Linked DNA regions of Homo sapiens: regions 1 and 2 are each reported to be linked to region 3. The links are microRNA targets in miRTarBase. Many come from high-throughput screens and were not tested one by one. Region 3 holds a microRNA gene; each other region holds the end of a gene's coding sequence.
The links. The annotated mature microRNA hsa-miR-4455 reads AGGGUGUGUGUGUUUUU and lies in region 3 at 1,932-1,948, opposite strand. An mRNA with a match to its seed (bases 2 to 7 or 8) in the 3' UTR can be bound and repressed. Matches are read on the target gene's strand: a 7mer-m8 pairs with bases 2 to 8, a 7mer-A1 pairs with bases 2 to 7 and ends in A, and an 8mer does both.

Region 1 (3,348 bases), not on the chromosome of region 3:
GGTGCAGGAACCACTCGCCTTCCCGCCTTCCCACCAGCCCACCTCCTTGTGCTTACACGTGAAGCATGTGATTTCAGCTGGGAGGCCCAAGTGACCTGCCATGGGGCCTTCCCAGGTTAGGGCTGAAGTCCATGCCTGAAAAGGGTCAGCCCTGCTCAGGCCTCAGCTGGTGGGCTGCGGGTCCCAATCCTGAGGCTTGAAATGAGCATGGGGGTGCCCCACACTCGGTGCAGTGGCCGGGGTATGTGTGGGGATACCTGGCAGGCCCAAGCCCAAGGCTGTTCTCTACCCCTTTTTTTGGCTAGGGTCCTGAGAGGCAGGTGGAGGGGGACGGGCCAGGGCGCCCCTGCATTCCTCACCCGGGGCCTGCCTCTCAGGCACACCTCATCTGAACTTCATTACTCCTTCTTTTCCAGCTCCTTCCCGAACTCACAAATCCTGACGAGCTCCTGTCTTATCTGGACCCCCCCGACCTGCCGAGCAATAGTAACGATGACCTCCTGTCTCTATTTGAGAACAACTGAGGGCCACCCGGTCGGGGCCATCCCTCCACACTCTGCATCCTACCCCACCTACCCAACACACTTTTCCACCTGGGAGCCTGTGCCCTCAGACCGCCCCGCACCAGAGCCACGGGCTGTGGGGCGGGGAGCCCTCCCCCGCTGCAGCCCTCTCAGAACAGAGGGGTAGGGAGGGTGCACCAGTGCACCAGGAAGGCTGTGTGGGTCTGGAGCCCACGTCCCACCTCCACACCCTTGGCTTGGGCCCATGCCCAGCGCAGGCCTGAAGACCACCCTCCCGAGAGGAACCAGCCCGGTAAGAGGGCACACGCTGATGCGGCTTCCCGGTCCCTCCGCGTGTGCCGATTCCAGATGACCTTCCAGTGTCCCCAAGGTTCTTCCATCTTCTAGACTGTAACCCTGCCTCCCTGCTTCCTGGTCCAGAGCCTCCCTCCAGTGACTGTGGAGCCTGAGAAGGCCCCCGGGCCCCAGCATGGGCCCCGAGCCTTGGAGGAGCACTGGCAGTTGGTGGCAGTGAGACCAGCCCACCCACCACCACCCACCACAGAAAAGCACAAACCTCTGGGAAAGACAACGTCTCTCGGGGGCCAGGGGTCATCGGTTTGACCCCTGACCTATAAGCCAAGATACCCCATAAACACACTCAGAAAGCAGAGAAAAAGGACAAGAGTCTGTGTTTGAGAGGGGGTCTGCCATTCCTGCTTGGGGACTGGTGGGGAAGAGGGCCAGGACATCTTCTGAGCCAGGACGTCCCTGAGGCTCCACCTCCAAGCTCAGACAGGGCCCAGGCTTGGGGAACAGAGAGAGCAGGTGTACACCCAACCAAAGTGATTGTGCCCTTGGTTGGGGGGCGCGGGCATATAACCTGTCAGAAGCAAACAGGAGCGGCAACTTCTAACTTTGCTCCAAGCCACTCTCTTTTTAAACAGCAACAATTTAAAGCTATGAAGTCACCTGGAGAAAAGGAACGTTGCTCTTGGACAGCAAGCAAACCATTTCTCTCCGTCTGTTCTGTTTTTCTCCTAGTCCCTCTCCTGCCACCTCTCCAAGACTTCCGTGGGACACCCACTTCCCTCTGTCCTAGTTCTCTTTGTCCAATCAGATGGCAAGGGCAGTGCGTGGAAAGGCCGGGGAGGTGCAGAAACCAGAGCCCAGGGCAATGGTGTCTGTCCAGCCCCTCCCTCTGTCCCTGTGCTCCAAGCTGCCCCCGGCTGCAGCCCAGGCCATGGACATGTGCACCAGTATGTACCTGCAGGCATGGGGGGGAGGGGGGCGTGTTTCTGGGCCTGCCCCAGACACTGCCCTTGGCTGCCAGCCTACCCTGCCTGCACTCCTCCACCATCACAATCTCACCCAAACTCCTGCTCACTCAAGCAAAAGCAGCCTCTGGCCTTCCCTCCACCGCTTTGCTCCATCTGGCTTACCACTCTCCAGGGCCTCCTGGGGAGCCTGTCCTGTGTTCACTTTGTTTCAGGCTGGTCTGTGCCCCGTGAGCCACATGGCCTAGGGTGATGCCAGGTTGTCCCGTCACTGGGGTCCCATCTGTAAATTCTTTGCGCCCTTCCCGGCTGCTGCCTGGGGCCCTTTCCTGCTCTCCCGTCCGCTGTGGGTGGTCCCCAGCTCTCCTCTGTGGGTTTTACCGGAAAGGTGGCCCCAGCTGTTGACTTCCAGTCACTGTCCCAGACGGCACAAGGTTTTCTGTAGGAAAGCTGCCATTGCCCCGGCCCCTTTTCTTCCTTTGTCCCGTTGTCGAGGTTTTTTCAAATAGCGTGTTGTTCAGTATGCAAATCAATTATTTTAAGAATCGCTTTTGTAAATATCTTTGTGAATATTTTAGTATCGTCTTTGATAATATTCAACATTTTCATGACCTGGTTATAGCCTTTGCTGGTGTTTTTAAAATACCTGGACTCAATGACAAAGACCGAGTCTTCTTTTTTTTTAAACAAAAACAAAAAAAGCAACCAGGGCTATTTGTACAGTTGAAGGGGTGAACAGAATGGGCGGCTGTGCTGGGAGTTGGAAGACCGGGCAGCCCGCTATTTAGAGCCATCCCTCAGTCAGCTGGCAGGGACAAGCCAACGCCAGGTAGCATGTGGCCACCCTTGCCCAGTGTCTGTGGCCTGGCAAGTGGCCACGCCCTGTGTCAGACCATCTGGGAATTAAGCTCCAGACAGACTTACAGATGCCTTCCTTAGGAGTTCTTGCTTCTTGCGTTGATACTTTGCCCCAGAAAGGCCTGGGATTCATTCTGGTTCTTATCAGGGTGTGTCCACACTCTGCTCACAGGTGGATCCACGGCTTTCCAGTGCGGAGAGTCGAGATGCTCCCTGCAGCCCAGGCCCCGGGCACCTCCTGCAACCATCTCTGGGCTCAGCACCTGAGGCGGGTTTCCTGGGTCCCCTCTCCAGCAAGCCTCCACCAGCAAGCTCGGCCCAGAGCTTCCCTTCCGGCTGGCTCTGAACCGTGCGTGGTGCCTACAGCCTGCAGTCTGGAGACAAGCTCTTCCGGAGTGCTCTGGGAGCCAGGCCAGGGTGTGAGGGAGGTGCAGAGGCATCCGGGGCGGGAGCAAGCCCCAGGTTGTGACAGGTGCAGGTAGACAACGCCCATAAACAGAGATGGTCCTGAACTCTGGAGAGATCCTTCCCTGATCCTTTCGGACGACTACTTGGAGCCATAAGTAACCTCAGCAAAAACGAGGCCTCTGCAAGCCACTTTTCCATGCCAAGCATCCACCCGGCCCACAGGCATGTTTCTGCCGCCACTCCGCAAGATGGACAGGGAGCCAGCAGGCAGGCGGGAAGGGCCAAGTACAGGCAATCACCCC
Region 2 (3,000 bases), not on the chromosome of region 3:
CACAACGTTGGCCTCCTGGCACATGATGGACAGGTTAATGAGGATGGCCAGCCTGACTTGGGAAAGGCCAGGGACTACTACACAAGGGCCTGTGATGGTGGCTATACTTCCAGTTGCTTCAACCTCAGTGCCATGTTCCTGCAGGGTGCCCCAGGCTTTCCCAAGGACATGGACCTGGCATGTAAATACTCCATGAAAGCCTGTGACCTGGGTCATATCTGGGCCTGTGCCAATGCCAGTCGCATGTACAAGCTGGGGGATGGTGTTGATAAGGATGAGGCCAAGGCCGAGGTGCTAAAAAATCGAGCCCAGCAGCTACACAAAGAACAGCAGAAAGGTGTCCAACCCTTAACATTTGGGTAATGTGGTCCACCCTCCCTCCCAGGCAACAAACTGCTTGAGGCTGGCAGCTCCTGTTTCTGAAGACTGATGCAGCCCTTGAAGGTCAACCTGCTGGAGCAAAAAAACTTGGGACTTGAATTTGTAGCTCCATTTACATGGATCCATTGCCCCAGCTACTGGAGTATAGCCTACAATGTTTATTTCAGTCAATATTCCTTTATCTGGGTGTTCTGTACAATGTTTATTACAGTCAATATTCCTTCATCTGGATGTTCTGTGAAGATAGCCATGTTTATGGGGGTCTTAGTTTTCAAACTCTGGCAACTCTGTGAAAAATAGGAGCAAACTAGAGAGCCCTGGAGATTGGTAGTAGGGAAGGGAGGATAGCAGGAAGTTTGAAAAATTAGCAGCCCCGGGGCCTAAAGGAATCAGCTGTCATCATTTTCATCATTATTATTTTGGTTAGGATGGCTTGAAAATCAGAACGTATCTTGGTTTACGTAATTGAGGTCTTAAAGAACTAAGAACAGTTAAATAGTCACAACTACCACCCTCTGACTTACATAATCATTGGTGTGGGCTTCGTTTTGCCTTTAGAGTCACATCTTTCAGTAAATTCACAGAGATCAAGAGGGACGTGCAACATACAGCTTAAAGGCTGTTATGCTTCAGGGTTGCTGAAGAAGATGAAACATCAGCCTGCCATCGTCTAGAAGAGACATTGGCAGTTAAAAATTAGCACCTCCAGTGTAGTCGCCTGGCACTGCCCATCATGCTGAGGGAGCAGATTCTTCCCAAGGCAGCTTCAGCTAGGAGTTTGTAAGCAAGGACTTTGTGACACATTTGTCCCCTGGAACTGAGCCTTTTTAACTGTCCCTGTGAATGAACAATTTTGAGTGACCTACGGTTTGTGTTAATTAGTGTTCTTTCCAGATTCCAGGTACCGTAGAGAGTATGTTCTTTGTGGTGGTTGTGCCTTTTAAGAACATTTGTGGCCGGGCACGGTGGCTCACGCCTGTAACCCCAGCACTTTGGGTGGCCAAGGCGGGTGGATCACGAGATCAGGAGATCATGACCATCCTGGCTAACACGGGGAAACCCCATCTCTACTAAAAAATACAAAAAATTAGCCGGGCGTGGTGGCAGGCGCCTGTAGTCCCAGCTACTGGGGAGGCTGAGGCAGGAGAATTGCTTGAACCCGGGAGGCGGAGCTTGCAGTGAGCTGAGATTGCGCCACTGCCCTCCAGCCTGGGCGATAGAGTGAGACTCCGTCTCAAAAAAAAAAAAAAATTTGCTTTTTCTGTTGTCTCCCCAGCTTGTCACCAGGGGGCGAGCTTGCCATTTCCCTGCTGGTAACAATACCATTCTGTCACCATCTACTGTTTTAGGCTTCCGTTTTGCAGCCGTCCTGAAAGGAAGGCTTGCTGTGTAAATGAAGGCTTGTGAGCACAGCAGCCAGCCTCTCAAGTTGATAGAGGACAGGGACTTCCCCAAGTGCACAGAGGAGATTTCAAAAGACATCAAATTCACTTTTTAAAAATGTAAAGTAGCTTTTGGTGTGCTTAAACTAGGTCAGGCCAGGCGTGGTGGCTCATGCCTGTAATCCTAGCATTTTGGGAGGCCAAGGCAGGTGGATCACTTGAGGTCAGGAGTTCGAGATCAGCCTGGCCAACATGACGAAACCCCTTTCTCTACTAAAAATATAAAAATTAGCTGGGCGTGGTGATGCATACCTGTAATCCCAGCTACTTCGGAGGCTGAGGCAGGAGAATCACTTGAACCTGGGAGGCAGAGGTTGCAGTAAACTGAGACTGTGCCACTGCACTCCAGCCTGGGCAACACAGCAAGACTCTGTCTCAAAAACAAAAACAAAACTAGGCCAGGTGCAGTGGCTCACGCTTGCAATCCCAGCACTTTGGGAGGCCGAGGCAGGCGGATCACGAGGTCAGGATTTCGAGAACAGCCTGGCCAACATAGTGAAACCTCGTATCTACTAAAAATACAAAAATTATCTGGGTGTGGTGGTGGGCACCTGTTGTCCCAGCTATTCAGGAGGCTGAGGCAGGAGAATCGCTTGAACCCAGGAGGTGGAGGTTGCAGTGAGCCAAGACCATGCCATTGCACTCCAGCCAGGTAACAGAGTGAGACTCTGTCTCAAAAAAACACACACACACACACACACAAAACTGTAGGTCAAAAAACATGAAAATATGTTCAACATCACTAATTAGGGAAATGTAAATCAAAAACCACAATGAACTCTTAAAATTCAACAGTAAGAAAACAACCTGATTAAAAACAGGCCAAAACCCTTAACATATCTCAGCAAAGAAGATAGACAGGTGGCAAATAAGCATATGAAAAGATGTTCCATATAACATGTCATCAGGAAAATGCAAGTTAGAACAACAGACCACTATACAACTATTAGAATGGCCAAAATCCAAAGCACCGACAGCATGAAATGCTGGGAAAGTTGGAGCAACCAGAACTCTTATTCCTTGCTGGTGGGAACGCAAGATGGCACAGCCACTTTGGAAGACAGTTAAGCAGTTTCTTACAAAAACTAGGTAAGCTCTTACCATGTGATCCAGCAATCTTGCTCTTTAGTATTTACCTGAAGGAACTGAAAACATGTCCACACAAAAACCAGCACAT
Region 3 (3,348 bases):
GTATGGAGGAGCTTCTTCCTTCTGACTTCTCCCATCTTTCTTGCCTATTAAACTCTCTGCTCCTTAAAATCACACCAGGTGTGTCCGTGTCGTTTTTTCCAATTCAACTCGAGAGGAAGAACCTGGTATTCCTCCATTCATCAGAGCTGTATCAATATGATACGATAATATGGGTGAATCTCAAATATATTATGCTAAGTGAAAGAAGCTAGGCACAAGAGGCTACATCCCAAATTACTTCATTTATATGACACTCTGGAAAAGGTCGGACTAGGGACAGAGGATGGATCAGTGGTTCCCAGGGATTCCAGGTGGGGCAGCACGAGGGTGTATAGGATGATAGAGCTGTCCTGTATCCTCTCTGTGGTGGTAATTACTTGAATCTATGTATGTGTTAAAACTTGAAGAACTGTGCACCAAAAAGAGTGAATTTTACTATACATACATTTAAAAGTAAACTTTAAAAAGTGGCTTGTCAGCAATGCACAGAACAGCTCATTTCTATTGCAACAAACTATTGTGATTACTTTTGTATAAGTTACACATTTGGTCTTCACAATTTGAACCCCAATTGTGACACTATGCAAAGGGGGAAAAGTTCCCTGAGATTGTGTGATCAGTAAAAGATTATATTTACATTTAAATATCTTCAGTGTTTTTGACTTTAGCAAGACAAATGAGAATCTTTGATGGTGTTTGGTTTGTTGACCAGCCAGTTCAAATTACAGCTGGGTGGTTACCAAAGCTGGACAGATTACAGTATGGAATTAAAGTCTGAACAGAGTATGGGAATGCTAGCTTGAAACAAAAATAGAGTTTTGGGGAAAAAGAGCTTGGGAATTAATTGCATTCCTTGAATTCATTCCTTGGAAGTGTTTCATGCTGGCTCCCACAGTGGCTCAGGTGTACATGCTTTGTTTAGTAGTTGATCCTTTGAGCCATAGGAATTTTGGAATGTAATATGTTTGTTCTCCACCCACCCCGTGCCCATGAATCTCTTTTAGTAGGTTGATTTATTCACTCTTTAACTTCTATTGCACCTGAGTATACCAACAGTAGGATTAGGCTAGAAAGTATGCAGTCATAAGCTGAAATCAACAGGGACAAGTGATTAACAGGTGGACAGTGTTGAGCTTGCCAGGTCACCACTCTCATGGTCAATATTTTCTTTGTGCTATTTTTGGCTTGGTTCCACATCAGAGAGTTCAAACTCTGAAGTTGTAAAGATACTGCTTTTAAGAAAAATCAGCTCATGTCTGGACCTTGATTTAATCGTTTATTCATCTTTTTATAGTACTCTCTGTTCCCAAGATAAGCTACTTTATAAGGCAAAATTTCCACCTCGGCATCATTTCATATAAACATTTAATGCTGAAACTCCAGGTTACATCTGGCGTCTAATGATGAACGCAGACAGATGCTCCTATCCAGCCATGCCCTCTGCCACTCCGCGGGGTGCTGCTTTCCATTTCCTCTCTGTGTCTGTCAGCACCAGGGCCGAGCTTTTCTTCCGGGATAGATGCTGAGCTGACTCTGCACTCAAAGCGCTTCAAATGATGCTGATTGAAATCAGATGCTATAAAATGTTCATCACTTAGTTTCATTTATTAGTTTAGAGTGGCGTGCTATGCAAGCTTTTTGCTGTTTATTTATATTTTTACTTTAACTTTTATTAAAGTAATACAAGCATGAATTTTATAGAGCCAAACAATTCTACAATGTTCATTAACACAAATAGTAGTTGCTCCTTGCCTCTTCTCCAGAAACACCACTTTCAATTATCTTAGCTAATGCTATTGTCAGTAACCTCTACATCTCTAAATAAAATGCTTATATTGCTTTCCTTGATTTTTCAGCTTTATGCATTCATCTATTGGCTTATCCCTTTGCAAATGAAGAATTTGGCTGTCCTTCCTTCTCTTATTCTCAGGAAAAACACACACACCCTTCTCATCTGCTTATCTTTCTAATCTGGTTATATCATAATTTTTGTTAGCTCTTTGTTGAGCATTTATATGATTACAACCATGAAAATACTAAACTAAGCCATGCATCAAACTATAATGACTTTTCCTATCCTAGCCACTCTTTGCTTCCCTGGATTAAAATTTTATTATTATTATTGATGCTTATCACTAATTCAAACACAAACTCACTTAATTATACAAACATCCTCTTAAGACAGTCAGAGCATCACATATCTTATCAATCCAATCTTCACAAAATCTCTCCCAGATTCTCCAACATACTTCAGTCTAGATCGGCAGTCCCCAACCTTTTTGGCACCAGGGACCGGTTTCATGGAAGACAATTTTTCCACAGACAATGGGGGATGGTTTTGGAATGAAACTGGTCCACCCTAGATCATCAGGCATTAGATTCTCATAGGAGCATGCAACCTAGACCACTCGCATGTGCAGTTCAGAGTAGGGTTCATGCCCCTGTGAGAATCTAATGCCACCAGTGATTCGACAGGAGGCTGAGCTCGGGCAGTAATGCTCACTCACCTGTCATCTATCTCCTGCTGTGTGGCCCGGTTCCTAACAGGCCACCGACCAGTACCAGTCCACAGCCCAGGAGTTGGGGACCCCTAGTCTAGACCGTTCTCAACAACTGGGGCCAAACTGTCAACCTGGGACTTCTCCATCTTCCTGGGAATTCCCTTCACTTCTCTCATGTTGGATCTCCTGTTTCCTGTACGTCTTCTTTCCTGATTTACTCCTTTATCTTGGTGAAGCATATCTTTTAGCAACTTCCTACTATGAAGGAATAAAGGTGCATAGGAAATACAATATCTGGAACATTGCCTTTCTAAGATGTCTTTATTCAATCCTCATACTCAATTGATTTTTTTTTTTTTTTTTTTTGAGATAGAGTCTCGCCGTGTCGCCCAGGCTGGAGTGCAATGGCGTGATCTTGGCTTACTACAACCTCCGCCGCCCAGGTTCAAGTGATTCTTGTGCCTCAGCCTCCCAAGTAGCTGGTACTACAGGCGCCCGCCACCAAGCCCGGCTAATTTGTTTGTATTTTTAGTAGAGACAGGGTTTCACCATGTTGGTCAGGCTGGTCTCGAACTCCTGACGTCAGGTGATCCGCCCACATTGGCCTCCCAAAGTGCTAGGATTACAGGTGTAAGCTAACACACCCAGCCCTTAATTGATATTTTGACTATGTATAGAATTCTGGCTGGGTGGGGTGGCTCACACCTGTAATCCCAGCACTTTGGGAGGCCGAGGTGGGCAGATCACGAGGTCAGGAGATCGAGACCATCCTGGCTAACTCGGTGAAACCCCGTCTCTACTAAAAATACAAAAAATTAGCCGGGCGTGGTGGCAGGCGCCTGTGGCC

Region 1: the mRNA of ZMIZ1 is a reported target of hsa-miR-4455. Seed matches in the 3' UTR shown: 7mer-m8 at 749-755, 7mer-A1 at 1,336-1,342 and 7mer-A1 at 1,583-1,589.
Region 2: the mRNA of COA7 is a reported target of hsa-miR-4455. The part of its 3' UTR that is shown has no 7-base or 8-base seed match.

What each region holds. Positions count from the first base shown.
Region 1 is chr10:79,312,226-79,315,573 of GRCh38, forward strand. ZMIZ1 (zinc finger MIZ-type containing 1) reads left to right here. Exons shown (of 25, transcript NM_020338.4): 25 at 417-3,348. The coding sequence ends at 524. Among named protein-coding and RNA genes, the nearest start is that of PPIF, 34 kb to the right of the region's middle. RefSeq lists enhancers at 1-55, 813-1,312.
Region 2 is chr1:52,685,083-52,688,082 of GRCh38, reverse strand. It overlaps COA7 (cytochrome c oxidase assembly factor 7), which reads left to right. Exons shown (of 3, transcript NM_023077.3): 3 at 1-3,000. The coding sequence ends at 363. Among named protein-coding and RNA genes, the nearest start is that of COA7, 12 kb to the left of the region's middle. RefSeq lists a silencer at 1-120.
Region 3 is chr4:184,936,490-184,939,837 of GRCh38, forward strand. It overlaps MIR4455 (microRNA 4455), which reads right to left and starts at 1,951; the gene lies at 1,894-1,951.